Homo sapiens: one gene and its partners. The protein of the gene in region 1 purifies or fractionates together with the protein of each later gene. This does not show direct contact. Each region holds a gene or a part of one and is shown on either strand. Other genes may lie near its edges. The genes, in order: NCBP3, ACIN1, FAM120A, THOC7, METAP1, KRT6C and ODF2.

The links.
Region 2: the proteins of NCBP3 (region 1) and ACIN1 purify together in Homo sapiens (co-immunoprecipitation; 2 studies listed by IntAct, with this or other methods). This does not show direct contact.
Region 3: the proteins of NCBP3 (region 1) and FAM120A purify together in Homo sapiens (co-immunoprecipitation; one large-scale study listed by IntAct). This does not show direct contact.
Region 4: the proteins of NCBP3 (region 1) and THOC7 purify together in Homo sapiens (co-immunoprecipitation; 3 studies listed by BioGRID and IntAct, with this or other methods). This does not show direct contact.
Region 5: the proteins of NCBP3 (region 1) and METAP1 purify together in Homo sapiens (pull-down; one large-scale study listed by IntAct). This does not show direct contact.
Region 6: the proteins of NCBP3 (region 1) and KRT6C purify together in Homo sapiens (pull-down; one large-scale study listed by IntAct). This does not show direct contact.
Region 7: the proteins of NCBP3 (region 1) and ODF2 purify together in Homo sapiens (co-immunoprecipitation; one large-scale study listed by IntAct). This does not show direct contact.

The regions. Positions count from the first base shown.
Region 1 is NC_000017.11:3,836,247-3,839,746, forward strand, and holds part of NCBP3 (nuclear cap-binding protein subunit 3), read right to left. Parts: intron 1-3,500. UniProt on the Homo sapiens protein: Associates with NCBP1/CBP80 to form an alternative cap-binding complex (CBC) which plays a key role in mRNA export. NCBP3 serves as adapter protein linking the capped RNAs (m7GpppG-capped RNA) to NCBP1/CBP80.
Region 2 is NC_000014.9:23,085,137-23,088,636, forward strand, and holds part of ACIN1 (apoptotic chromatin condensation inducer in the nucleus), read right to left. Parts: intron 1-3,500.
Region 3 is NC_000009.12:93,556,185-93,559,684, forward strand, and holds part of FAM120A (constitutive coactivator of PPAR-gamma-like protein 1), read left to right. Parts: exon of another isoform or gene 1-174; intron 175-197; coding exon 198-407; intron 408-1,642; coding exon 1,643-1,826; intron 1,827-2,396; coding exon 2,397-2,534; intron 2,535-3,500. UniProt on the Homo sapiens protein: Component of the oxidative stress-induced survival signaling. May regulate the activation of SRC family protein kinases. May act as a scaffolding protein enabling SRC family protein kinases to phosphorylate and activate PI3-kinase.
Region 4 is NC_000003.12:63,853,806-63,857,305, reverse strand, and holds part of THOC7 (THO complex subunit 7), read left to right. Parts: intron 1-3,500. UniProt on the Homo sapiens protein: Component of the THO subcomplex of the TREX complex which is thought to couple mRNA transcription, processing and nuclear export, and which specifically associates with spliced mRNA and not with unspliced pre-mRNA.
Region 5 is NC_000004.12:99,044,221-99,047,720, forward strand, and holds part of METAP1 (methionine aminopeptidase 1), read left to right. Parts: intron 1-958; coding exon 959-1,090; intron 1,091-3,500. UniProt on the Homo sapiens protein: Cotranslationally removes the N-terminal methionine from nascent proteins. The N-terminal methionine is often cleaved when the second residue in the primary sequence is small and uncharged (Met-Ala-, Cys, Gly, Pro, Ser, Thr, or Val).
Region 6 is NC_000012.12:52,471,006-52,475,242, reverse strand, and holds the start of KRT6C (keratin, type II cytoskeletal 6C), read left to right. Parts: upstream 1-1,437; 5' UTR 1,438-1,505; coding exon 1,506-2,045; intron 2,046-2,962; coding exon 2,963-3,177; intron 3,178-3,510; coding exon 3,511-3,571; intron 3,572-3,726; coding exon 3,727-3,822; intron 3,823-3,946; coding exon 3,947-4,111; intron 4,112-4,237.
Region 7 is NC_000009.12:128,466,006-128,469,505, forward strand, and holds part of ODF2 (outer dense fiber protein 2), read left to right. Parts: intron 1-2,919; exon of another isoform or gene 2,920-3,177; coding exon 3,178-3,348; intron 3,349-3,500. UniProt on the Homo sapiens protein: Seems to be a major component of sperm tail outer dense fibers (ODF).

The DNA of each region.
Region 1 (3,500 bases):
ATGGAGAATACCAGATGATGATAATAAGCCACATTAACTGGGCACCTGCCATGTGCCAAGCGCCACTCTATGGACTGTAACATTTTGTTAGAGTCTCCCAGCAGCCCTATAAGAATTCCTGTCATTGGCCGGGCGCAGTGGCTCACGCCTGTAATCCCAGCACTTTGGGAGGCTGAGGCGGGTGGATCACAAGGTCAGGAGTTCAAGACCAGCCTGGCTAACATGGTGAAACCCCGTCTCTACTAAAAATATAAAAATTGGCTGGCCGTGGTGGCAGGTGCCTGTAATCCCAGCTACTCAGGAAGCTGAGGCAGGAGAATCATTTGAACCCAGGAGGCGGAGGTTATAGTGAGCCAAGATTGCGCCACTGCACTCCAGCCTAGGCAACAGAGTGAGACTCCGTCTCTCAAAAAAAAAAAAAAAAAAAAGAATTCCTGTCATCTGCCTTTCCAGATAAGGAAACTGAGATTTTTAGAGGCTAAATAACTTGCCCGAGGCCATAGAGCTAGAAAGTAACAGATTAAGATTTGAATCCAGGTAACTAGGCTTCAGAGCTCATGCTCATAACCATGAAACCAATGGTCCTCAATCCTGTCTGCACATTAAAAGTACCTGAAAAGATGGCCTGGCGCAATGGCTCACACCTACAACGCCAGCGCTTTGGGAGGCCGAGGCGGGTGGATCACAAGGTCAGGAGATCGAGACCACCCTGGTCAACATGGTGAAAACTCGTCTCTATTAAATACAAAAAATTAGTTGGGCATGGTGGTGTGCGTCTGTAGTCCCAGCTACTCGGGAGGCTGAGGCAGGGGAATCACTTGAATCTGGGAGGCAGAGGTTGCAGTCAGCTGAGATCGTGCCACTGCACTCCAGCCTGGGTGACAGAGCAAGACTCCTTCTCAAAAAAAAAATAAAAAATAAAAATAAATAAATAAAAATTACCTGAGAAGATATAAAAAGAATAACTATCAGCCGGGCGCAGTGGCTCACACCTGTAATCCCAGCACTTTGGGAGGCCGAGGCGGGTGGATCACAAGGTCAGGAGTTCAAGACCAGCCTGGCCAAGATGGTGAAACCCCATCTCTACTAAAACTACAAAAATTAGCTGGGCACGGTGGCAGGTGCCTGTAATCCTAGCTACTCAGGAGGCTGAAGCAGGAGAATCGCTTGAACCCGGGCGGCAGAGGTTGCAGTGAGCCGAGATCGCGCCACTGCACTCCAGCCTGGGCTACAGAAAGAGAGGAAAAAAAAAATGCTGGGCAGTGGCCAAGGTGGGTGGATCACGAGGTCAGGAGGTCAGGAGCTTGAAACCCTGTCTCTACTAAAAAATACAAAAAATTAGCTGGGTGTGGTGGCATGCACCTGTAGTCCCAGCTACTCGGGAGGCTGGGGCAGGAGAATCGCTTGAACCCAGGAAGTGGAGGTTGCAGTGAGCCGAGATTGCGCCACTGCACTCCAGCCTGGGTGACAGAGCAAGCCTCTGTCTCAAAAAAAAAAAAAAAAAGAAAAGAAAACCAGTAACTATCCCTGGGACCTATCCAACTCCAACTAATATAAAGTGGTCTGAGATGGGCAGCAGGGTTCCCCAGGGCTCAGGAACACTATCCTAGGCCATGCTGCCTCCTGGACAAAGAATCGACTGAAATAAGCAAGCTTCCCCAGCTGACATCCCACGGCCGACCTTACTGCCTTTTTTAGGAATATCTTTAGAACCGTGAGACTGGAGTTGTACGTTAAAAAAAAAAATTTTTTTAAATTAAAAGTTAACCCCAAAAGTGATCCTATTAAGGTAAGTATCATATTTCCATTTTACAGACAAGGAGACTGAAACTAACAAGGCTCAAGAACTTGTCCTCAGTCACAAAGGAACTGAGACTAGATTCTACGAGGCTTTTGCGCCCTAAAGAGCTCCAACAGATGTGAGAAAACACTTCAAGTGGGTGAGCAGAGATGCTCCACGGGGGAAGTGACACCTGACCAGAGATAAAGCATGGGACAAGGAAGGGCAAATGCACAGAATGAAAGGCATGAGCCGTATCAGAGGCAAGCCGCCTCAAGGAATGCTCTCGGGACCAGAGGTCGACAGGTGTGATAAAGCTATGACGCCCTCGCGGTAGAGTTGTGAGAGAGACTCACAGGTATGCTTGCGCCCGGCTGTGCAGGCACATGAAGGTCAAGCCACACCTGGCCTTCACAGGACTTCTCCTCAAACAGAAACCCCGCCCATGAGGGAAGCAAGGGCGTGTTTCTGACTTGAACTGGTCATGCAGGATAAAGAGTGAAGCAGCTTCCAGAGTTCAGCTCTGCATCCACACTGCTGGGCCCATTAGGACTGACTGAGGAGGGACGCAATATCAGTCGATAGCACCACATCCTACATTACACAGCAACAGAGCAAAGGAGTTAAGGGCAAGGCTCTAGAGTCAAAGAAACTGGGTGTGAATCCTGACTCCACCTTTACTAGCTACATGACCCTGGGCAATTTATTAAACTTCTTTGAGCCTGCTTCCTCTTTATAAAATAGGGATAAAAATAAATTCCTCATACAGTTGTTGTGAGCAACAAAAAAGAAAGAAATATATAATGTGCTTAACGAGTCTAGTAAAAAAGCAAGTTCACAACAAATAGCAGCTATTCTTTCATTCATTCAATATATTTACAGAGCTTTTGCTTTTATCAACCAAACAAGGCTAGAGAAGCTCATACAATACAGCACAGGCCTTTAACATGCATTCAGAAGGCTGCCTACTAAACCCTTTATGAACACCCAAATTTGCAAATAACACAGAGGGAAGCCTTCTGCATTCATGGATTTATATTATAGTAGAATAATAAATAAGAACATAGACTCACTAAAAAAGTAGTAATTTTTCCTTTTATTTATAAATTGCTTTAGAAAACTGCGGCAGATTACTATATACAATAATTCGGGGTGAGTTCTAGGGAGCAAAATACCCCAAAAAAACACAAAGATCAAATCAAATCACAAGTCCAACTGTAAGCGCAGGCTTAAAACTCAGGGCAGGATTAGTTTAGCTTTCTCTGACAACAGGATGTTACTGAGTGGTTTACATATATCAGATATTCAGATTATCAATAGATTCAGAATTTTTTTTTTTAAGACAGAGTCTCGCTCTGTCGCCCAGGCTGGAGTGCAGTGGTGCAATCTCGGATCACGGCAACCTCTGCCTCCCAGGTTCAAGCGATTCTCACGCCTCAGCCTCCCGAGTAGCTGAGATTACAGGCGCCAGCCATCACTCCCAGCTGATTTTTGTAGTTTTAGTAGAGATGGGGTTTCACCATGTTGGCCAGGTTGGTCTCAAACTCCTGACCTCAAGTGATCCACCTGCCTTGGCCTCCCAAAGTGCTGGGATTACAGGCATGAGCCACCACACCTGGCCAATAGATTCAGATTATCAACAAAAGTGTTAATGGCTTTTCCCCACCAATCTCAAAATTGCTCTAACTCCCCGAAAAGAAGGTCTCACTGTGATACACTT
Region 2 (3,500 bases), on another chromosome or scaffold:
TTAAGACCATGGTGAAACCCCGTCTCTACTAAAAATACAAAAAAAAAAATTAGTCGGGTGTGGGGGCGGGTGCCTGCAGTCCCAGCTACTTGGGATGCTGAGGCAGGAGAACGGCGTGAACCTGGAAGGCAGAGCTTGCAGTGAGCAGAGATCGCGCCACTGCACTCCAGCCTGGGCGACAGAGCGAGACTCCATCTCAAAAAACAACAACAACAAGAACAACAACAACAAAGTCAAATAACTGAGTTGCAATTTTAAAATTAGTATGTACAAGCAAAACAGCCTCTTTATCTACCTACTGTGAATTATATGCTATTTATTGAATTATAATGTTATTTTTGATACTGTAAAACTGCAGTGATAGGATTTCTGGATGATTACTCCTCTGGAAGAACTTGTAGTAAGTCATCAAAGAGATCTGGAGAAATGAACAGGGCTGTTCAGAAAGTTCTGGTCATCACTGTTTTGCAATAAAAGCAGAAACTGGAGGCGCCTCAGACATGAAACAAGAAATTAGTCAGCAATGCAAAATATAAAGAGATGAGGAATCTCTAGTTCCTTGGAAAGAGCTGATGTGATGCAGACAAACTTCTGAAAAAGGTGATATCTTCTATTATAAGAACATGGCCACAATGAATGTCTTAGGCCAGATGTTAGTAACACGTGTAGACAGTGAGCGCTTTAGCTAAGGGTGGAGCTGATACTGATAACAGGCTAATAAATACATTTCAGGATTCGAAAAACAAGTCAGGGTAAATATTAGATTTCCAAGAGTCCAAAGCCAGAAGGCTTCACAGAAAGGAAAAGGCAGTTGCTAGACAATGCAGGATATATTAAAGTGCAGAATGTTTAAGGGTTATAGAGGAAATAGTTCTTCATCCTAGAAAACAAATTCCTGGGTAGGATTTGTGGGACCAAAGTAAGGAAGCCAGAGATCGAAGAAAAGCCTGTGGCTAAAAGGTAACCTTAGGTGTGAATAAGAAGCAGGAATGAAGAGAATACAGACCTGGAAACAATGCCAAACCTAAATCTGACTCATGTTAGACCTGTAAGTAAGTTACCTAGCATTTCTCTAGAATTTCCGCATCCAGGTTTTAATATGGAGAAAACGGAATGAGGGGCATACTCTATAAGCCAAAGGCTGGCTAAAATCACCTTTGTTAAAGAATCAATATTCTGAATATGCATTTAAAAATGTATTTTCTTAGTTTGAGCTCTTTTTGAAAAAATTAAGGACGGTAAGAATTTCTGTACACACAGTCATGATATAGAAGGAAATTCAGACAATTTATGACTATGGTAGGTGGATAATGAGTCCTAACACCTTAGAAATATCTGAAGAAAGTGATGGAGACATAAGAGGGAAAGTCAGACAGGATTTTATAAACCAATTATTTCTTTGAGACATGGTTTCACTCTGTTGTCTGCCACCTTGACTGCTAGGGCCCAAGCAATCTTCCCACCTCAGCCTCCCGAGTAGCTGGGACTACAGGCATGTGCCATCACAGTCAGCTAATGTTTTCTATTTTTTTGTACAGATAGGACTCACTATGTTGCTCAGGCCAATCTCCTGGGAGATCCTCCCACCTCAGCCTCCCATAGTGCTAGGATTACAGGTGTGAGACACCACACCTGGACAAACCAATTCTTCCTTCCTATTTGGAATTTTGCCAATAGCATATAAACAGGAGGATGCTGGAATATAAACCAAAGATCTTGATAAATTATAACACTGAAAAACTCTTCCTTCAGTTAGTCATTCATAAAATGAATTGGTCAACAGAACCACTCAGGGACTTTTTAAAAAATGTAGAGCCCCAGGACTCCCATTCCTTGAGATTCTTTGGGTAGGGGCCAGGAATCCATATTCTTAAACATAGTAATATTAAAACAAATAAAAAATCTCCCTCAGGTGCCAGTAGCGTTTAGAAAAATGTTAGTAGGAAACTTAATCAAAAATTGTTATTCAAGAGAGAACCCCAAAACATTCAAAGCCAACAAATAAGCTGCCATTGCAATGGCATACTGGCATATGGCAGACTGAGATTCTATACCTGGAAGAATCTGATTTCTGGACAAACACTAGGGTTAATGCTGATTCAACTAAGCACTGATAGAATTCCAAATGGCCACTCCATTCAGGACCTTAACTAAATTTTGTACAACATCTATAATGGGATTCTTATCTAAGCCAAGATCAGAGGTAGAAAAGTTTATGGCATAAAGGACACTGAAGAGCATTTACGGCAATTATGAGCAGTACTCTACAATTTACCACATTCATATTTTCCAATTTATTTTTCACCTTTTTTTTTTTTTAACGTCTGGGGTTTTTTTTTTCCTCCATCAATCATTAGCCATGGGCAGGGTCTTACTGATGACATAAAGCACTGAAAAGATTGGCTACCCTTACTCTAAATCTTTGCTTTTGAAATCTATTTCAGAAATCATTTCTCATTTTCATTTCGAATTATATTAAGAACTGACAGCCTCTCTTTTTAAAGAGAGGTCCTTATCAAATCATGGTCCTATTAAGAATTTTCAATGGTTCCCCCATTACCTATAGAACTAAAAAAAAAACCCTCATACTTACTGGCCTGGCATTTAAAGCCCTCTGTGTATCACCCTCATCTACCTTTTAAATTGTTTTGCTGACTATTCTTGAATGTGAAATACTCTACTCTGGCTAGATTAGTCTACTACCTCTCCTTTAAAAATACCATTTTCATTCCTATCTCTCTGACTTTGTTCCTTCCTAAAAATATCTTCTTGTATCCTCTCTGCCAAACCATTTCTAAGGCTCAGCTCAAATCCTGTATCTCCTTATGAGGCTTTCTCTAATCACTGTAGTCCTCAGAGCTCTTCCACTCTTTTGGTTCCCTATGTCTGTATCATTGTCACATACTATCTTCTGTTGTTCGATTTATGTGTAATTGTTCTCTCTTCCTAACAGACTTTATGCTGTGCTAACTCCCAATATACTCTCACAGAGATATGTATGCAGTAGGAATTCAATAAATTTTTTTTTGTTTTATGTGAGAAGAAATACCGACAATTTTAGAAGAGCTTTCTCTTTCCTCTCGGCTTTAAAATCAAGGGGGAAAGGGCGCAGGGAGCAAAGTGGATCAGCTGAGGGTCTACTACTCTCGTATTTCAGGAGAAAAGAGGTCCCTAAGGAACTTAATAATTCCAAAGTATTGGCCAGTATTTTCTTACTAAAAGATTTCTAGAAATGTCTTTCTGGGTCTAAGACTAGGATCAAGAAAAACAGGGACTGAGTAAAACAGGACCTTAAAACTAGACTCAAAGGCTCTCTATTTTCTCTAGCCTTTTGGAAAATTTCTTTCCCACCATTAAATGTCTCCTAAAAAATCTATTTCCATGAAGAGTCTATCGCTGCTCAGCCTTTTAACTAAAATCAAGTGTAGTCCATGAAGGAATTCTGTATTAATCAGAAGAGCTGGAAACCTCCATACATCCTAAAAACACTGATTATGGTG
Region 3 (3,500 bases), on another chromosome or scaffold:
AAATGTGTTAAATCACATAAGTATTTCTGTTCAAATGAGGCCAGTGTTAGGTCAATATAAGGTAATGGTAGGACTACTTAGTGGTGCTGTTTTGTTGAGGAATATTCTGTTAACTTTGGAGAGTTTTACTAAGACTTTGAAAGAATTTAATACTGTAGTACTCTTATTCCATAGAAATTACTCTTTTCAATTTAAAGATTGAGAACCTAGATCCCCGAGGAATTCAGCTATCAGCTCTCTTCATGAGTGGAGTAGACATGGCCTTGTTTGCAAATGATGCATGCGGACAGCCAATCCCCTGGGAACACTGTTGTCCTTGGATGTATTTTGATGGGAAGCTCTTCCAATCCAAACTCCTCAAAGCCAGCCGGGAAAAGACCCCACTCATTGACCTCTGTGATGGTCAGGTATGCTGCGGGGCCGGGTGGCTGCCTTTAACTGCAATGAAATAAAGCTCACTGGTTAAATCTGTCATCTTTTATACCATATTTATCATCCTGTGTTTCAAGATTCTGTTTTAGGTTGGGCCTGGTACTGAGTGTCACTAAATATCACTTCAGTACCCAGGATGAGCCAAGCTCCTGATATAACATTGTTTCTCATTATTTGTGGTAGTAATGTTCTAAAATTCACCTTGAACGCCAAATTAGTGAATACTGACCATTGCTCCTAGGGGCAATACAAGGTGCTGGGTTCCTTCAAGGCTCTGGTCACATATTTTTGTTAACCAATCAGTATATAATCTTATTTCATGTGCATTTTCGTTAAAGACACCTTATATAATATGGATTGTTGATTCATTATTATTGAACTCACAGCCAGTAGCTTCTGTAACACGTATATTCTCTGTAAGGCACATCACAGCCTCCTTATGCATTTAGGAACACCAGACAGCACTTCAGCACTACACTTGGAGACCATTTTATTTGTTTGTTTGTTTTGGTTTTTTTTTTTTTTTTTTTGAGATGGAGTTTCGCTCTTGTCGCCCAGGCTGGAGTGCAGTGGTGCGGTCTCAGCTCACTGTAACCTCCACCTCCCAGGTTCAAGTGATTCTCCTGCTTTAGCCTCCCTAGTAGCTGGAATTACAGGTGCCTGCCACCATGCCCAGCTAATTTTTGTATTTTTAGTAGAGACGGTGTTTTGCTATGTTGGTCAGGCTGGTCTTGAACTCCTGACCTCAAGCAATCCACCCACCTTGGCCTCCCAAAGTGCTGGGATTACAGGCGTGAGCTGTTGCACCCAGCCAGGGACCATTTTAAACAGTGAAATTACCAACAAAAAAGGACAAAAATGTGAAACACGTGGCACTTAATAAACTGTGAAAAGGATTCTTGTTTTCAGTATGAGCTGAAACAAGAAGGCAAGCGTTGTCTTGTTTGACCTCAGCTGGGGTCAGTGCATCAGGCAACAAAAATCTTTGCCGTGTTCTGCACAAGTCTGCAGACGACCAGAAAACTGCCATAAGTATTGATTTTTGTGGTTACAAATAAACGTTAGCAAGTAGGAGAATTTGCAGACATAGAATTCATGAATAAAGGGAACCAACTGTATAGTTGATAGATCTTATTTCTTTAGTGCTCATTTAAATTCAATTAAAACCCCCTGTGGATGGCATTTTCACATGCTGGTCCTTGTCTTCCAGGCTGATCAGGCTGCCAAGGTAGAGAAGATGCGCCAGAGCGTCCTCGAGGGGCTCAGCTTCTCCAGGCAGAGCCACACGCTCCCTTTCCCGCCGCCACCTGCCCTGCCCTTCTACCCTGCCTCTGCGTACCCCCGGCACTTTGGGCCTGTCCCACCCTCTCAGGGCAGGGGCAGAGGCTTTGCAGGTGAGTTGATTGGGACGTATTCCTGTGGGTAACAGATGCCAGATTCCTGTAAAGAAAGTGCAGCCCTTATAGGCAAGCCCATCTGCTGTGTTGACCTTGTCACTGTTGGTCTTGGAGATCCTGCAGCAGCAGTTCTTCAAGTCCGTGAGGAGCAAGTTTAATCCTGGAGATAGGGGAGAGGGACCTGCTGATGCAGATGCAAAAGCTGCACCGTAAAATCTGTCAATCAAGCTGAAAACTCTGCTCACATTTTAAGATATATTTGTTTCTCATGTGTAAGGGAAAATAAACCCACCCAGGTCAGAGAGAGCCATCTTCCAGGACTCATCTCCCAGGGCCCTTCCTGAGCCCCATGCTAGTGCCCTGTTGAATGACCCACTGCAGGGAGGGTGGCCTTACAATACTGGTCCCCAGGGACCATGGGCACAGGACAGTGAGGTGACAAGAGGGGCCAGGAGACCCCTCCATGGCAGCTGGAGGAGGCAGGGGCCACTCTGCCTGAATACCCAGCAGGGCCCTGAGTCCTGTCCCTTACACTTCTCCCCTCTCTCTCTACCCCGGGTCCCACAGGCGTCTGTGGCTTTGGAGGCCCCTATGGGGAAACGGTAGCAACAGGCCCTTACCGTGCCTTCCGTGTGGCGGCAGCATCGGGACACTGCGGAGCCTTCTCAGGCAGTGACAGCAGCAGGACTAGCAAGTCCCAGGGCGGTAATTATACCCACCCCTTCCCAGAGCTTCTGCCTGCCAGCACTTCCTTCGCTCCATCGTCTGGCGCCTTCCTTCCTCTACTGTCCTCATGAGCCCCTCCTCCAGCAGAACGGCCTTTCTTCTGGGTCCCCGCTCTGACCCTCATTGACCACTCCTCCTGAGACTCTCTGCTCTCAGGTCTCAGCAGCGGCTCTGCTGTGGCCAGTCTCTCCTTTCAGGGTAGACCACTGAGTGTCCACCTAGAACAGAACCTTTCTGTGCACCTGGGTAACCTGACCATCGCCTCGTGTTCATAGGATGAGCTGCTAATAGTGGCGTTTCTTTCCCAAGCAGCCATCTTTTGGTAAAGATTATCATGCTTGTATAGAAAATGCTAATGGTCACAGAATTCCTGACATAAAAAGTCTGTCACAGTTTGTTTCGCAGAAACATTTTTAAACAAAGATCTAATGTTGGGCATATAAACAAGGCAGTTTACTGTAGATTCCCAGTGCTTCTCTTTGCATTTGTATTAGGCTTGCAAAAGAGAAAAGGGTCTTAACATTTAGCATAGGAAGCAATGTCTTGTGATGGTGCTGTAATTGGAAGTCAGTGACCTGTATCTTTGTCCTAATCCCACATTTTGGGACTGCAGATCTAAATCTGCCCATCAAGTCACATAACAGGATTAACTGTTCAGATGTGATTTTGGAGTTGCATTGAGGATGGGCAAGCCTTTCTCTCTTGATCAACAATGTTTTTCCAACTCAGTTACATGGGATAGTTAGGGAGGCCAGCAAGGGAACTGTGCGGAAAGGTGACTTGCAGATTTGGCGACGGGTCAGCCCCTCTGTCTGCAGGTCACCTCTCCTTTCCCTGGTGCAGCTGCATGCCTCTCTGCCTCCTCTGTCTGCCCACCAGCCTCCTGCAGTGTGCTACTCTGCTCTGTGACTGCTCCTCATGCAGCTCGCAGCCATGTTTCCTCTC
Region 4 (3,500 bases), on another chromosome or scaffold:
AGTTTACCACCCAGTTAACCACTGTTACTACTTCATAAAAAAAGTACTACATGTCAGTAAATTCAAGAAGAAATGCACAATATGAAAAATGAAAACCTTCCCCTCTTTACCTTCCGTAATAATTCCTCTCCCAGAATGATTTTTAATGCCTCTAAAAGGTAAAAGTATCTTCTCTGGAGCCTGACTCCTGAGTTTGAGTTCCATTTCTATTCCTTACTTCCTGTGACATTTAATTTTTGGCAAGATGCTTTTTCATTGGTAAAATAGGGATAAGAATATCTATAATGAGGCCGGGCAAGGTGGCTCACGCCTGTAATCCCAGCACTTGGGGAGGCCGAGGCGGGTAGGTCACGAGGTCAGGCGTTCAAGACCATCCTGGCTAACACGGTGAAACCCCGTCTCTACTAAAAATACAAAAGAATTAGCTGGGCGTGGTAGCGGGCGCCTGTAGTCCCAGCTACTTGGGAGGCTGAGGCAGTAGAGTGGCATGAACCTGGGAGGCGGAGCTTGCAGTGAGCCGAGATAGCGCCACGCACTCCAGCCTGGGCAACAGTGCAAGACTCTGTCTAAAAAAAAAAAAAATCTATAATGCTGTTGTGTAGATTAAGTGTGTTTATATGTGAAAAGCATCTAAAGCAGTCCTTAGCATATTTAAGTGTTACGTATCTGCTGGCTAGTATACCAGTGGGTATATATGCTTGAAAATTTTATACAGTCATTTACACACTGGTCTGTATTCAACTTCTGTGTACCCATAAAATTTTTTTTAAGTGATATAGTAGGTGCGTATATTTATGGGGTACATGAGATATTTTGATACATGCATACAATGCAAAATAATCACAGCAGGGTAGATAGGATATCCATTGTCTTCAAGCATTTATCATTTGTTATAAACATTCTAGTTATGCTCTTTTAGTTGGTATAAAATGTGCAATAAATTATTGTTGACTATAATCATCCTATTGTGCTATCAAATACTAGATCCTATTCACTCTATGTTTTTGTACTAATTAAGCATCCCCGCCCCTCCCCTGCCACCACACACCCCACAGCTCTTCCCAGCCTCTCGTAACCATCTCTATTTTCTACCTCCATGAGTTCAGTTGTTTCAATTTTTAGCTTATCATGGAGCTCTTTTGAATATAAATCTACCTTATTCTTTTATATCAGTGTGTATAGTCTATTAATTTTTTAGACAGATCCTCTATTGGCATTTAGTTTGTTTTCAGTTTTTTACTCTTCCAAACAGTGTTACAATGGAGATATTTGCATAGATATATTCGCGTACTTGTGGGAATAATTTCTAAAAGATAAGTCAAAAGGTATATGTGTCTTTAATTTTGGTATATCTTGCTGTAATGCCTTAGTAGCTAGCTGTTTTCCCCACTATAATCCTGTCTGAAATTGTTATCCCTTCCTGTGGCTTTCAGTTTGGTACCTACCAAATTTTTTGCCAAACTGCATTTAGAAAGGAAATGCTAATCCTCACTGGTAGATCACAGGATTACTAGTTCACAAAGGCAGGTGAGATTGCAGCCTTCCCTCAAAGGGAACCACATTTGACCTGCAATTTAGCCTTAGCAAGGAGTTACATAACAATGATGCTATTGCCTCTGGTTGTCAAGCCTTGACCTGTCTCTGAAGTTGTTTTGTAATCAAGGTTTTAATGGCAAATATAGGGAAAGAACAATTATGAATTTTGAAAACGTTAGTCTGGGTTTATGAGAAACTCCCTTTTATGCTAAAATGAGAGCACAGCTAAAATGGCTGTGTCATCTGACCAGAGGCCTAGAAATCTAGAGTTGCTCTAGTAACTGTAAAGGAGTCATTTCTTCCTGCCTCTATGTTTATGAAACATAGAGTTTTAAGATCTAAGGACTTTTTGAGGCTTATTTGGTGTCTTGAATAATTTTATATTTCTTCTGGCTATATGTTGGCATATATGTATCCCATTTTGCAAGTAAATATTTACATTTCAGCATAAATGTGTCATTACTGATTTTAAACTGATTTTGAAAGATATTTTGTATGTGCAATTATGGTATAACGAAATCCAGTAGGAAGTCATAAGTTCTAGAATTGTGATAATAGTCTACTGTTAAACCAATCCTGTTTTTTTATGTTTTCAGTGGTTAACATTTAGGCATATTGGATATGAGGCATTTTGATGAGCAAATATGTATCTCATGCCCCTGCCTCATAGACAGTATACTCTAGACAATGTGTGGTCATATTACTCACTAATTAATACGTGAAGTTAATTGCTGCCTCCTTTTCTTTCTTTTTTTTTTTTTTGAGACGGAGTCTCGCTCTGTCGCCCAGGCTGGAGTGCAGTGGCGGGATCTCGGCTCACTGCAAGCTCCGCCTCCCGGGTTCACGCCATTCTCCTGCCTCAGCCTCCCAAGTAGCTGGGACTACAGGCGCCCGCCACTACGCCCGGCTAATTTTTTGTATTTTTAGTAGAGACGGGGTTTCAGCGTTTTAGCCGGGATGGTCTCGATCTCCTGACCTCGTGATCCGCCCGCCTCGGCCTCACAAAGTGCTGGGATTACAGGCGTGAGCCACCGCGCCCGGCCCTCCTTTTCTTGACTCAGATTCACACTCCACAGTCTTTCCAGGAGCTAGATGGATGGTATTATCCAGCCATTGTCCTACAAGCCTAAAGCCAGGTGGAAAACCACCATCCTCACAGCAGGTGTCAAGTATTTTGGTTTAGAAACTCTTTCCAGATGATGTTCATCCTCATAGTAAAGAAAGTAATTATGACAAGGAGTGATGTTGATAACATAAAAAAAATAACAAAAAATCTGCTAAGCCATCTTTACTGTTTTTACAGGATAGACCAAAGCCCAGCAGAATTACTAATATAAGCATTCAAACTGCTTACAGAGGGTTTCAAGCATGATAATTTGTGAAGTCAACATGTATAGTAAACAAAACATATTTTAAGTGTGTTCATTATGGAGCTAATTGATAAGATGTCATTAAAAATAATAATGCTCATGGCATTTGTGTTAGGAACTATCAGCAGCAGTCCATCTTTAAATTTAAAAAGAACAGAGGCTATTCTCAAACTGAGAGCTTACCTTTTTGTTTTATTCTGTTTCTGTTGGAGCTGTGCTCTGTACTTTATACATGTTATTTCAATAATTCTTGTCCACAGAGTTTTCTAGGCAGCAACTCTCTGTGCACAATTTCAGCTAGAAACGCCATGACCTTCCCAGTAAATTTGAGACAGAAGCAAATTTGTAAGGAATCCTAACTGGGCAAAACTTGATATGCATAAATGCCTAATATGTATCTACATAGATATATCTATAGATAAATCTTCAACATTTACTCTGACTTTTATAGGATGATACAAGTTGTGGATTAAATTTTTTTTTTTTTTTTTTGAGACGGAGTCTCGCTTTGTCACCCAGCCTGGAGTGCAGTGGCGCGACCTTGGCTCACTGCAAGCTCCACCTCCCGGGTTCACGCCATTCTCCTGCCTCAGC
Region 5 (3,500 bases), on another chromosome or scaffold:
CCTGGCTTAGATGGCATTTTAATATTGATGGAATTAGACTCTTTGTTAATAAGATATCTTAAAGGAACTACCTATCAAATGAGGAAGCATGAGCCCAAGTGTTAGAGGCTGCAGATAATTGACTGATTGTGATGCTAGCTGTGAATGATAGCCGAAATTTAACTATGACACTATTTTTATTAGAATTGCTACTGCTTTAGTTAGGGTATCTGTTCATAAAGTTCCATAGGTTTTGAGGCCAACCCTGTTTTTCAAATATAAAGCCTGTTATTTTTATTATATGTAGAATGTGTGAGGTTTTTCAGGAATGTATGTGTTGTGCTAGAACCAAAATATCTATATTGTGATGTTACAGGTTGATTGAAATATGTGGTTTAAAAATACTCAATGTGCTCTCTAGATACATTATAATGGTATAATAGTATATAATATATAGTATAATAGTAATCTATATTCTTAAACATGGGGACAAAGAGAAGAATGAATATTCACAAATAAGAGAAAAGCAAATGAGTTTTAAAAAAACAGGTGTAGAGCAGTGTAAATTTTTCTGTTATTCCCTAGCAGGAGTAAGGAACTTGTAAAAGATAAGTGAAAATGGTATTTTGTAGCAATGTAGCAAAGTTTTCAATTTAATGTTACTAACTCTGGTAATTTATTTTGCATGATTGTGTCCCACATACATTTTTCTTTTGCCACAAGTGATACAATTACTATAAGAGTATAAAAACCCACTATCTGGCTTATGTTACATGGCCATATTCCTGCTCTCCACAGTGAGTTCAGTTACATCTCAGGGAGCTTCTGTTGGGCAATAACTATCTATCCATTGGTGTCTAATTTGAGAATGCAGAAGTTGTCTTTTTCATTAAGTTGCTAGATGCTGTCATGTTGGAAAAACACTTGAATTTTGAAATGAAAATAAGTATGGTCTTTATATTTGCACATTCTCTTGCAGTGGATATCACTCTTTATCGCAATGGTTATCATGGGGACCTGAATGAGACATTTTTTGTTGGAGAAGTGGATGATGGAGCACGGAAACTTGTTCAGACCACATATGAGTGCCTGATGCAAGCCATTGATGCAGGTCAGCCTCAGTGTTGAGCACCTATTGGCAGTCCTGTGTGTTGATGGGCCAAGAATGACTGGGCGCTGCAGTTCTGTGCATTCCTTGTACCTTCCAGGTTGCCCCTGTTCTACCTGAGTTAGCTTTGGTTGTTAGCAGTAATGGGTAAAAGGATGATCTGGGAATCTCTTGGTGGTGATAGACCAGATGATTGGTTAGCATCCTTTGTTTCTTCTGTGATTTATCTTCCTTTTCTTTGCCTGATAAATGAAGAGGACTGTGCAGATGGTTTTTTAGTGCAACTTTTATTCTATTTTTAAAATTCTTTCCAGTACATAAATATTATGTTCTCCTCATAAAAAATTAAAAGTGAAGATTATGAGTGAAAAATGTGTGATCCTCCTTTACACTTGCCTCCCCTCTTATCTCTCTCTTCTCTCTAGAGATATCCCATTACCGTTTAGGTTTTTTCTCTCTCCTGTGCATTAATGCACACACGTATGTGTATGTGTTAAATTAAGTTAAATGGAATCATAATATTTTTAATGTGTAACTGGGCTGTTTTTTCAACTATCATAGAGATCTTTTCAAGTTAGCATATATACCTACAGACATAGATTTACCTCATTCTTTTAATGGCTATGTATTATATTCTATAGTATTACAATTTGTGTAACTATTCTGTTGGATTTTGGTGCTTTCCAGATTTCTTACTATTGTAGTAATGGGTAGGGGTGTATTTCTGGAGGATTTTTCTCAGGCTGTCTGTCTTTGTACATATGAACAACTTATCGAGGCTTTTTTGTTTAATCAGTATCTTATGGGGATAAGAGAAGGAAAGGGGCTGGGCATGGTGGCTCACTCCTGTAATCCCAGCACCTTGGGAGGCTGAGGTTGGCAGATCACTTGAGGTCAAGAGTTCGAGACCAGCCCGGCCAACATGGTGAAACCCTGTCTCTAATAAAAATACAAAAATTAGCCAGGTGTGGTGGCGGGCGCCTGTAATCCCAGCTACTCGGGAGGCTGAGGCAGGAGAGTTGCTGGAACCTGGGAAGTGGATTGTGCCACCGCATTCCAGCTTGGGCAACAGAGCGAGACTCCATTTCAAAAAAAGAAGAAAAGAAAAAAAAGAAAGGAAAGTTCTTAACAGCATCTTGTTGGAGTTGTTAACAAACTGTTAATAAATGGGCAAACAGCCTTCTGGTTAAATCCTTACCATATCAACTTTATTACCAGTGTGCTACCTGCAATCCTCCCCAGTCTCTCCAAATCTTGATGTCATCAACAGAATAGTGAACAGGACAGAGTTCTTAGACAAACATACAGTTATCTCTAATAATGTTGATCCAGTATTTTTATTGTTTTTAGTGCGTTCTTTAATGTGTATGGGAGATGAAATTTTTACTCAAGTTGGAGGAATGGAAATGAAGGAATATGATATTTTTGTGTATCAGGTGAAATTTTGAAAACTTATTACTCATTGTTGATTATTTTAAAACATTAATACAGGAGGTGGAATTGAAGAAATTTAATGTTTAATTTGTCATTTGTGAAAGCTTAAGTTTGAAATAATTTTTAGAGTTTCTGCCAGATAATATAGTCAATATTTCTATTCTTTTTGCTTCTCTGTGAATCAACTGAAGAAACAAAAAAAAAAAAAAAAAAAAAAGAAAAAGAAAAAACCAGATAGTTAGAATGCTGTTTTATATGACGTATGACTGGAACTTGCCAATAGTTTTCATAACAGTAGCCAGGAAGGAACGAAAGTGGCTTGATCTTTTTTGGAAAGTGCTTTGAATTCCTTTGTATATATCATTTTTGCCCCTCATTTTGCACCTCCCTTACTCCCCCAGGTAGAGGGTTTGAAAAGCTGTTGAAATTAGGCTTCTTAAGTAGGGTTTCTTAGTCTATGCACTTAGTGGCTTTTGGGCCTGATAATTTTTTGTTGTAGAGACCTGTTCTATACACATAAGATGTTCCACAAGCATTCCTGGTCTCTACCCAGTAAATGCCAGTTACACCACCACCCTGTGTTTGACAACCAGAAATATTAATATCTCTAGATACTACCCTTGGGGCCGCAGTTGGAGCAGTTTGAAAATTAGGGAAGACTTCCTCTGTCACTCTTTCTATGCAACATGGATTACAATATTGTTCCCCCTCCCACCCCAGGCTGATAGGAAGGCCTGGATAGGAATGAAAGAAAGTAATTATGAAAGTCAGCATGATTTTTCAAAACCAGAAACCTCCTTCCTTCTCCCCCCAAAATCAAGCTGCAAAATACAGTTAAGAGCAAGTAAAAATGTTAATTAAACTGATTCCTTGAGCTATTTACCCTGAAATGGATGGGAAAGATACATTGTATCTGAACCTCAGTCTGGGAATCAGATAGGCTGAGTAGGAGAGTAGAGAGAGTTAAGGATCCCCAGAG
Region 6 (4,237 bases), on another chromosome or scaffold:
TTTAAATAGGCATTCTACTACATCCACATCTGGAAAGTCTAAGTATATGAGAGTCTTATTAAGCTTCAAGTTTTAATGATCAGTTTGCAGGAAATATAGAGGACACAGTAGCATCTTAAATGAAACACTGTGAGTAAGCAATGAGGAAATCCCAAAGACTGAAACACTACTCAGGACAATTAACCTGGTCTTATCAACAAAAGAATTGTAAACAATAAGGAAATAAATGAAAAAGGACATTGGAGAATTGAATAGACACATTGATGTTAATAAATACACAAATTGGCTGGGAGCAGTGGCTCATGCCTGTAATCCCAGCACTTTTGGAGGCTGAGCCAGGTGGATCACCTGAGGTCAGGAGTTCGAGACCAGCCTGGCCAACATGGCGAAACACCATCTCTACTAAAAATACAAAAAATTAGCCGTGCTTGATGGTGGCCACCTGTAATCTCAAACTACTCAGGAGGCTGAGGTGAGAGAATCTCTTGAACCTGGGAGGCGGAGGTTGCAGTGAACCTAGATCGCACCACTGGACTCCAGCCTGGGTGACAGAGAGAGACTCTATCTCAAAAAAAAAAGAAAAAAAATTACCCTTCCCCACTGTCCCCTCTACACCCCCTCTCTATGCTCTTTTCTTCCTAGTAAAGCATTACTTTCTTTCTAGCTCAGTGATGCCACTGGATGTGATGTCTTCTATCTCCTTTTGTGTTGTCATCTTTATTAGAGTCAACTCCTTGAGGGCGAAGACTTAATAAATACATACATTTTTAAAATACAAAATAATATTTCAGTTATATTTCTAAAAGGTCTATCATTTAAAGATTAATATTGAATTAATATTGAATTAAATCCCAAATATTTTTGGGATTTAAAAAAATTTAACATTGATAAGGGAACCGGGTGGAAATATACAAGAAATAAGACTGGCCATAAGGTAATCATCATGGAAACAGGTAATAGGTATATACAGGCCCATTGTGTTCTGCTCCTCTACATGTTTGAAATTGCACACAGAAGGAAAAATAATTACAGGAAAAATGTTAATATTTCTGTTAAGGCATTTGCAATACAGTGCTTGTGATCTCCAACATCTCTGCTGGAAGAAAGTCAGGCTGGAAAGAGGAAAGCACTCACAGCATGTTGATAAACAGCCTAGCATGCAGAACCTTTGCTGAAGACAGTGACTAACTTCAACTTCATGAACTGAGAATGCTCTTACTGTGCTGAAATCTCGAGTCAAAGCTGGAGGCAGGAACATTTTCCCTGACTAAAGGAAGTGAAAAATGCCATCTCAGCATTTCATAACTTTTCTGATCCAGGTGTGATCTCACTATTTGTAAAGCCCAGCCCTTCCCAACCTGCAAGCTCACCTTCCAGGACTGGGCCCAGCCCATGCTCTCTCATAATATATAAGCTACTGCTGGAGCCCGATTCCTTGTCCTGCTTCTCCTGCCTCTCGCCTCCAGCCTCCAACGCTCGCCACAGCCCTCTCATCTCCTGGAACCATGGCCAGCACATCCACCACCATCAGGAGCCACAGCAGCAGCCGCCGGGGTTTCAGTGCCAACTCAGCCAGGCTCCCTGGGGTCAGCCGCTCTGGCTTCAGCAGCATCTCCGTGTCCCGCTCCAGGGGCAGTGGTGGCCTGGGTGGTGCATGTGGAGGAGCTGGCTTTGGCAGCCGCAGTCTGTATGGCCTGGGGGGCTCCAAGAGGATCTCCATTGGAGGGGGCAGCTGTGCCATCAGTGGCGGCTATGGCAGCAGAGCCGGAGGCAGCTATGGCTTTGGTGGCGCCGGGAGTGGATTTGGTTTCGGTGGTGGAGCCGGCATTGGCTTTGGTCTGGGTGGTGGAGCCGGCCTTGCTGGTGGCTTTGGGGGCCCTGGCTTCCCTGTGTGCCCCCCTGGAGGCATCCAAGAGGTCACCGTCAACCAGAGTCTCCTGACTCCCCTCAACCTGCAAATTGACCCCGCCATCCAGCGGGTGCGGGCCGAGGAGCGTGAGCAGATCAAGACCCTCAACAACAAGTTTGCCTCCTTCATCGACAAGGTGAGCCAGTGCCATGCCCTCCATCGGGCACTTCAGGGTCCCCAGACCAGAAGAGCAACACCTTCCTGCTAGGGAGACCTAGGAGGGAGGGAGAAGGGGATTCAGCCCAGCTCTGCAGAGAGTGCAGGTGGCTCTCGGTGCACAGGAGGCAGCACAGATGGGCATCACTCCCCCATGGGATCTCTGGAGTGGCCCTCACTCCTGCCTAGGGAGAGCCGTAACTTTTCATAACCCTGAAGCACAGATGAGGCCATCAGAGAGTGGAGTAGGTTAATTCTCCCCTCTGAAGTGTTTAAGAGATTACAAAGCAAATGCCAGGAGTATATGGGCTGGTAAATTACACTCTGGGGTCTGGGTAAGAGGAAAAAGATTTAGAAAGAAAAGGAAAAGATAATCTGGCTGGATTAAGAAAAAAAGGGACATAGAAACAACTGTAAAACATGGATAAATGCTAATTAATTTTAAAAACAGAGAATGACCATAACATCAGAATATTTGAGAGGAGACACTAAATGGGAAAGTAGACTGAAATGTAATCATGAGTCAACATATAATATCTCTCCTAACTAAGATCCTATCAGTAAAAAAACTGTGTACAATATATCAGGTAATTAGTATTTTTAAACTAGATTTGTGATTGTGCCTGGAAAAAGAAGAGAAGAAATGTTGAAACTCACTGATGATCAATAGCTTACAGCGTGAGAACACCTCAATGGTCCATGGGACAATTTCTCTAGTGAGACTGGTGGGGTGCAAAGGAGAAGGGGTTGGGGGAGCAGAGCTCAGCCTGAGCCTCTCCACATGCACTGTAGTAGCCCAGCACCATGGGGACCTCCAAGACCTGCCAGGAAACTGGATACCAGACACTTTTTCTTCCTTCCTTTGCCTGGAAAATGACCATCTTGCTTCCCTTCCAGGTGCGGTTCCTAGAGCAGCAGAACAAGGTTCTGGACACCAAGTGGACCCTGCTGCAGGAGCAGGGCACCAAGACTGTGAGGCAGAACCTGGAGCCGTTGTTCGAGCAGTACATCAACAACCTCAGGAGGCAGCTGGACAGCATCGTCGGGGAACGGGGCCGCCTGGACTCGGAGCTGAGAAACATGCAGGACCTGGTGGAGGACCTCAAGAACAAGTGAGGACTCCATTTCCTGCAGCACACACTTCAAGACTATTGGGTGACCAGGGCCAGATGTGTGTAGGATTCCTAACAACCCATGTCCATGGAAATGAAAAGCACAAATTAGTCCCTAGGAGCAAACCTGCAAGAACCACAGATGGTTATGGGAGGATGGGGGGATTAAAGAAGTGGCAAATTTAGTAGTAGCAAAACTCATCTCTTTGGCTCTCTGTGGCAGGAAAGCTCAATTAGAATATATTCCATTCAGGAAATTGTTGAATCCCAAGCTGCTTTTCTGTTTCATCCTACCCACTGGCTCATATGTGTCCTATGCCTTTCTTCCTGTAGATATGAGGATGAAATCAACAAGCGCACAGCAGCAGAGAATGAATTTGTGACTCTGAAGAAGGTGAGCAGATGAAGCCGGGGGTTCAAATTCATTTAGAAGGAGAGAAGTGGCTCTGTGTCCTCGCTCCCCTGGGAGAGAATTGGCAGGAGGACTAGAAGATGGGTAGATTGGAAAGGTGAGCTCAGGTAACTCCAGGTTGTTGGCTCTTTCCCCAGGATGTGGATGCTGCCTACATGAACAAGGTTGAACTGCAAGCCAAGGCAGACACTCTCACAGATGAGATCAACTTCCTGAGAGCCTTGTATGATGCAGTAAGCATCTCCACCATCCTTCTGTTTACTCTGATGGGGTCTGCAAAGGGGAGAAGATGTATAGGGTTGGGTATCTCTGTAAATGTCAGATGTGAAGTTGATCTTATGACCTTCTGTTCTGCAGGAGCTGTCCCAGATGCAGACCCACATCTCAGACACATCCGTGGTGCTATCCATGGACAACAACCGCAACCTGGACCTGGACAGCATCATCGCTGAGGTCAAGGCCCAATACGAGGAGATTGCTCAGAGGAGCCGGGCTGAGGCTGAGTCCTGGTACCAGACCAAGGTGAGCAGGGAGTGGGCAGCTGCTGAGGAATCCTTGTGTCCATCCTGGAATACCAGAGGACTGCAGACTTCACTGGGGACATCCCCTGACAGGAAGCTGGGGTCCTCTCACAGGACATGCACTCTG
Region 7 (3,500 bases), on another chromosome or scaffold:
GGTCGCGCCACCAATATCAGCTACACAGAAGGCTGAGGCAAGAGAATTGCTTAAGCCCATGAGGCGGAGGTTGCAGGGAGCCAAGATCGCGCCCCTGCACTGCAGCCTGGGCAACAAAGCGAGTCTCCATCTCAAAAAAAAAACAAAAAAAACGGAAAAGAAAAACGAAAAGAGGACTGGCCGGGCCTGGTGTCTCACGCCTGTAATCCCAGCACTTTGGGAGGCTAAGGCAGGCGGTTCACCTGAGCTCAGGAGTTGGAGACCAGCTTGGACAATGTGACGAAACCGTATCTCTACCAAAAATACAAAAAATTAGCCCAGTGTGGTGGTGTGCACTTGTGGTCCCAGCTACTTGGGAGGCTGAGGTGTAAGGATGGGTTGAGCCTGGGAGGCAGAGGTTGCAGTGAACCAAAGTTGTGCTACTGCACTCCAGGCTGCTTGACAGAGTGAGACCCCATCTCAAAAAAAAAAAAAATGGAAAAGTGCAGGGATGTACACCCATCAGAAGTGTATTGCTCCATGAATTTTCACAAGCTGAAGGTACCTGTGTAACGATCACCCAGCATCCTAGAAGCTGCCCCTGGCTTTTGTCTATGTCACTCCCTCCCCATCACAAGGAGTAAGTAGTCACACTTTCCCATATATATATATATATATATATTTGTCATTTTAAAAAATATATAGTCATGTGGCCGGGCGTGGTGGCTCACGCCTGTAATCCCAACACTTTGGGAGGCCGAGGCGGGCGGATCACAAGGTCAGGAGATCGAGACCATCCTGGCTAACACAGTGAAACTCCGTCTCTACTAAAAGTACAAAAAATTAGCCGGGCATGGTGGCGGGCACCTGTAGTCTCAGCTACTCGGGAGGCTGAGGCAGGAGAATGGCGTGAACCTGGGAGGCGGAGCTTGCAGTGAGCCGAGATTGCACCACTGCACTCCAGCCTGGGTGACAGAGCGAGACTCCATCTCAATTAAAAAAAAAAAAAAAAAAAAAAAAAAAAAAAAAAATATATATATATATATATATATATATATATATATATATATATAGTCATATATCAATTAACAATGGGGATATATTCTGAGAAACATGTTGTTAGGCACTTTCATCATTGTGCAAACATCATGGAGTGTACTTACACAAACCGAGATTGGTAAAGCCTGCTACACACCTGGGCTGTATGGTATAGCCTATTGCTCCTAGGCTACAGACCTCTACAGCATGATGCCGTACAGAATACTGTAGGCAACTAACACAATGGTAAGTATTTGCATATTGAAACATAGTAAATATAGAAAAGGTACGGTAAAAATACGGTGTTTTGGGACCACTGTCATATATGCAGTCCATTGCTGACTGAAATGTTACGTGGCACATGACTGTTTATACATTTTCCTATTTTTGTCATTTTAAGTATTAAAAGTAACTTCTTTTCTTCTAAAAGTAATATACATACCTGGATGTGGTGGCTCATACCTGAAATCCCAGCACTTTGGGAGGCCAAGACGGGCTTATCACCTGAGGTCAGGAGTTCGAGACCAGCCTGGCCAACATGGTGAAACCCCACCTCTACTAAAAATACAAAAATCAGCTGGGCATGGTGGTAGGTGCCTGTTATCCCAGCTAGTCGGGAGGCTGAGGCAGGAGAATTGCTTGAACCTGGGAGGCGGAGGTTGCAGTGAGCCGAGATGGCACTACTGCACTCCAGCCTAGGCGATGGAGTGAGACCCTGTCTCAAAAAAAAAAAAAAAAAAGCAAAGTGTTTACAGCTTTGCATAAAGTTTCCTGAAGCATATATGCATTTTAAAATATTTAAAAAAATATTTAAAAAGCTGAGACTACAGGCACCTGCTACCACGCCCGGCTAATTTTTTTGTATTTTTAGTAGACACGGGGTTTCAGTGTCTCGATCTCCTGACCTCGTGATCCGCCCGCCTTGGCCTCCCAAAGTGCTGGGATTACAGGCATGAGCCACCGCTCCTGGCCCTAAAATATTTTTTATACTGACGTATTTAAAAAGTATTGTATTTTTTTAATACAATACTTTCCAGGTATTGTACCATGTGCATTTATAATATTTTTCTACATCATCAAAATAACTGATTACTCCTAAGAGCATTTCTTAATATCATACAATATCTGGTCCTTTTTCCAATTTACCCACTTGTTTCTACAATACCTTTTCAGCAGATTCATCTACCTTTGTAACTAATCCACTATCAGCTATTCATATTCATTTAAAAGACTTTTGACATATTTCATTTCTACCCTAGGTATAAAAAAATGTACTGCCCTAAACTTTTGCCAACTTTGGGTATTATTAATGTTTTTGCTGATTTGTTATATTATTTCTTTATGAGTATTGTTATTTTTAGAGACAGGGTTTCGCTCTGTCACCCAGGCTGGCATGCAGTGGTGCTATCATAGCTCACTGCAGCCTTGAACTCCTGGACTCAAGGAATCCCCTGCCTCAGCCTCCTGATTAGTTGAGATCACAGGCATGTGCCACTACACCCACCTGATTTTTTTTTTTAGAAGGAGTTTCGTTCTGTTGCCCAGGCTGGAGTGCAATGGCGCAATCTTGGCTCACTGCAACCTCTACCTCCCGGGTTCAAGCGATCCTCCAGCCTTAGCCTCCTGAATAGCTGAGATTACAGGCATGCACCACCATGTCCAGCTAAGTTTGTGTTTTTAGTAGAGACGGGGTTTCACCGTGTTGGTCAGGCTGGTCTCAAACTCCTGACCTCTGGTCATCCACCCGCCTCAGCCTCCCAAAGCGCTGGGATTGCAGATGTGAGCCACCATGCCCAGCGCTAGCTAATTCTTTTACTTTTATAGAGACAAGGTCTCGCTATGTTGCTGAGGCTGGTTTTGGCTTCCCGCCTCGGCCTCCCAATATACTGGTTTTACAGGGTATCCAGCCTATGTTCTTTATTTTAAACTTAACATTGTAGCCCAAGCTTTTAATTTTGATGTTGGGAATTCTCCAAAACCATCATTTAAACATGGATAGGTAATGTTCCATCACAAGGGTTCAGAGTATGTTCTTCCTGGGGTCCCCGAGTTAGCTGTTACAGCTTTTCCCGTCTAATCAGTAAATAAGCCTCCAGTGGTGGAACTCGTGGTCAAGGTTCTGCCTTCTGAGTTCATGTGTTTCTCCCTCCTCTACATCAGAATCCACCTCATTGCCTGGAGATCACGCCACCATCTTCAGAAAAGCTGGTCTCAGTGATGCGGTTAAGTGACCTCTCTACAGAAGATGATGACTCAGGTCACTGTAAAATGAACCGTTATGATAAGAAGATTGATAGTCTAATGAATGCGGTTGGTTGTCTGAAGTCTGAGGTGAGGGAGGTAGGGGGCTGGGATAGCTACTACCCTGAGGATGTGCAGGAGCACCCAGGTGGATTTCCTGCCTGGTCCCTCAGCCTGCGTCTGCAGGCCTTCAGGCCTCCTCTGCAGGGTTGCCCCGGGCTTCAGTTGCCTGCCCCGGGAGG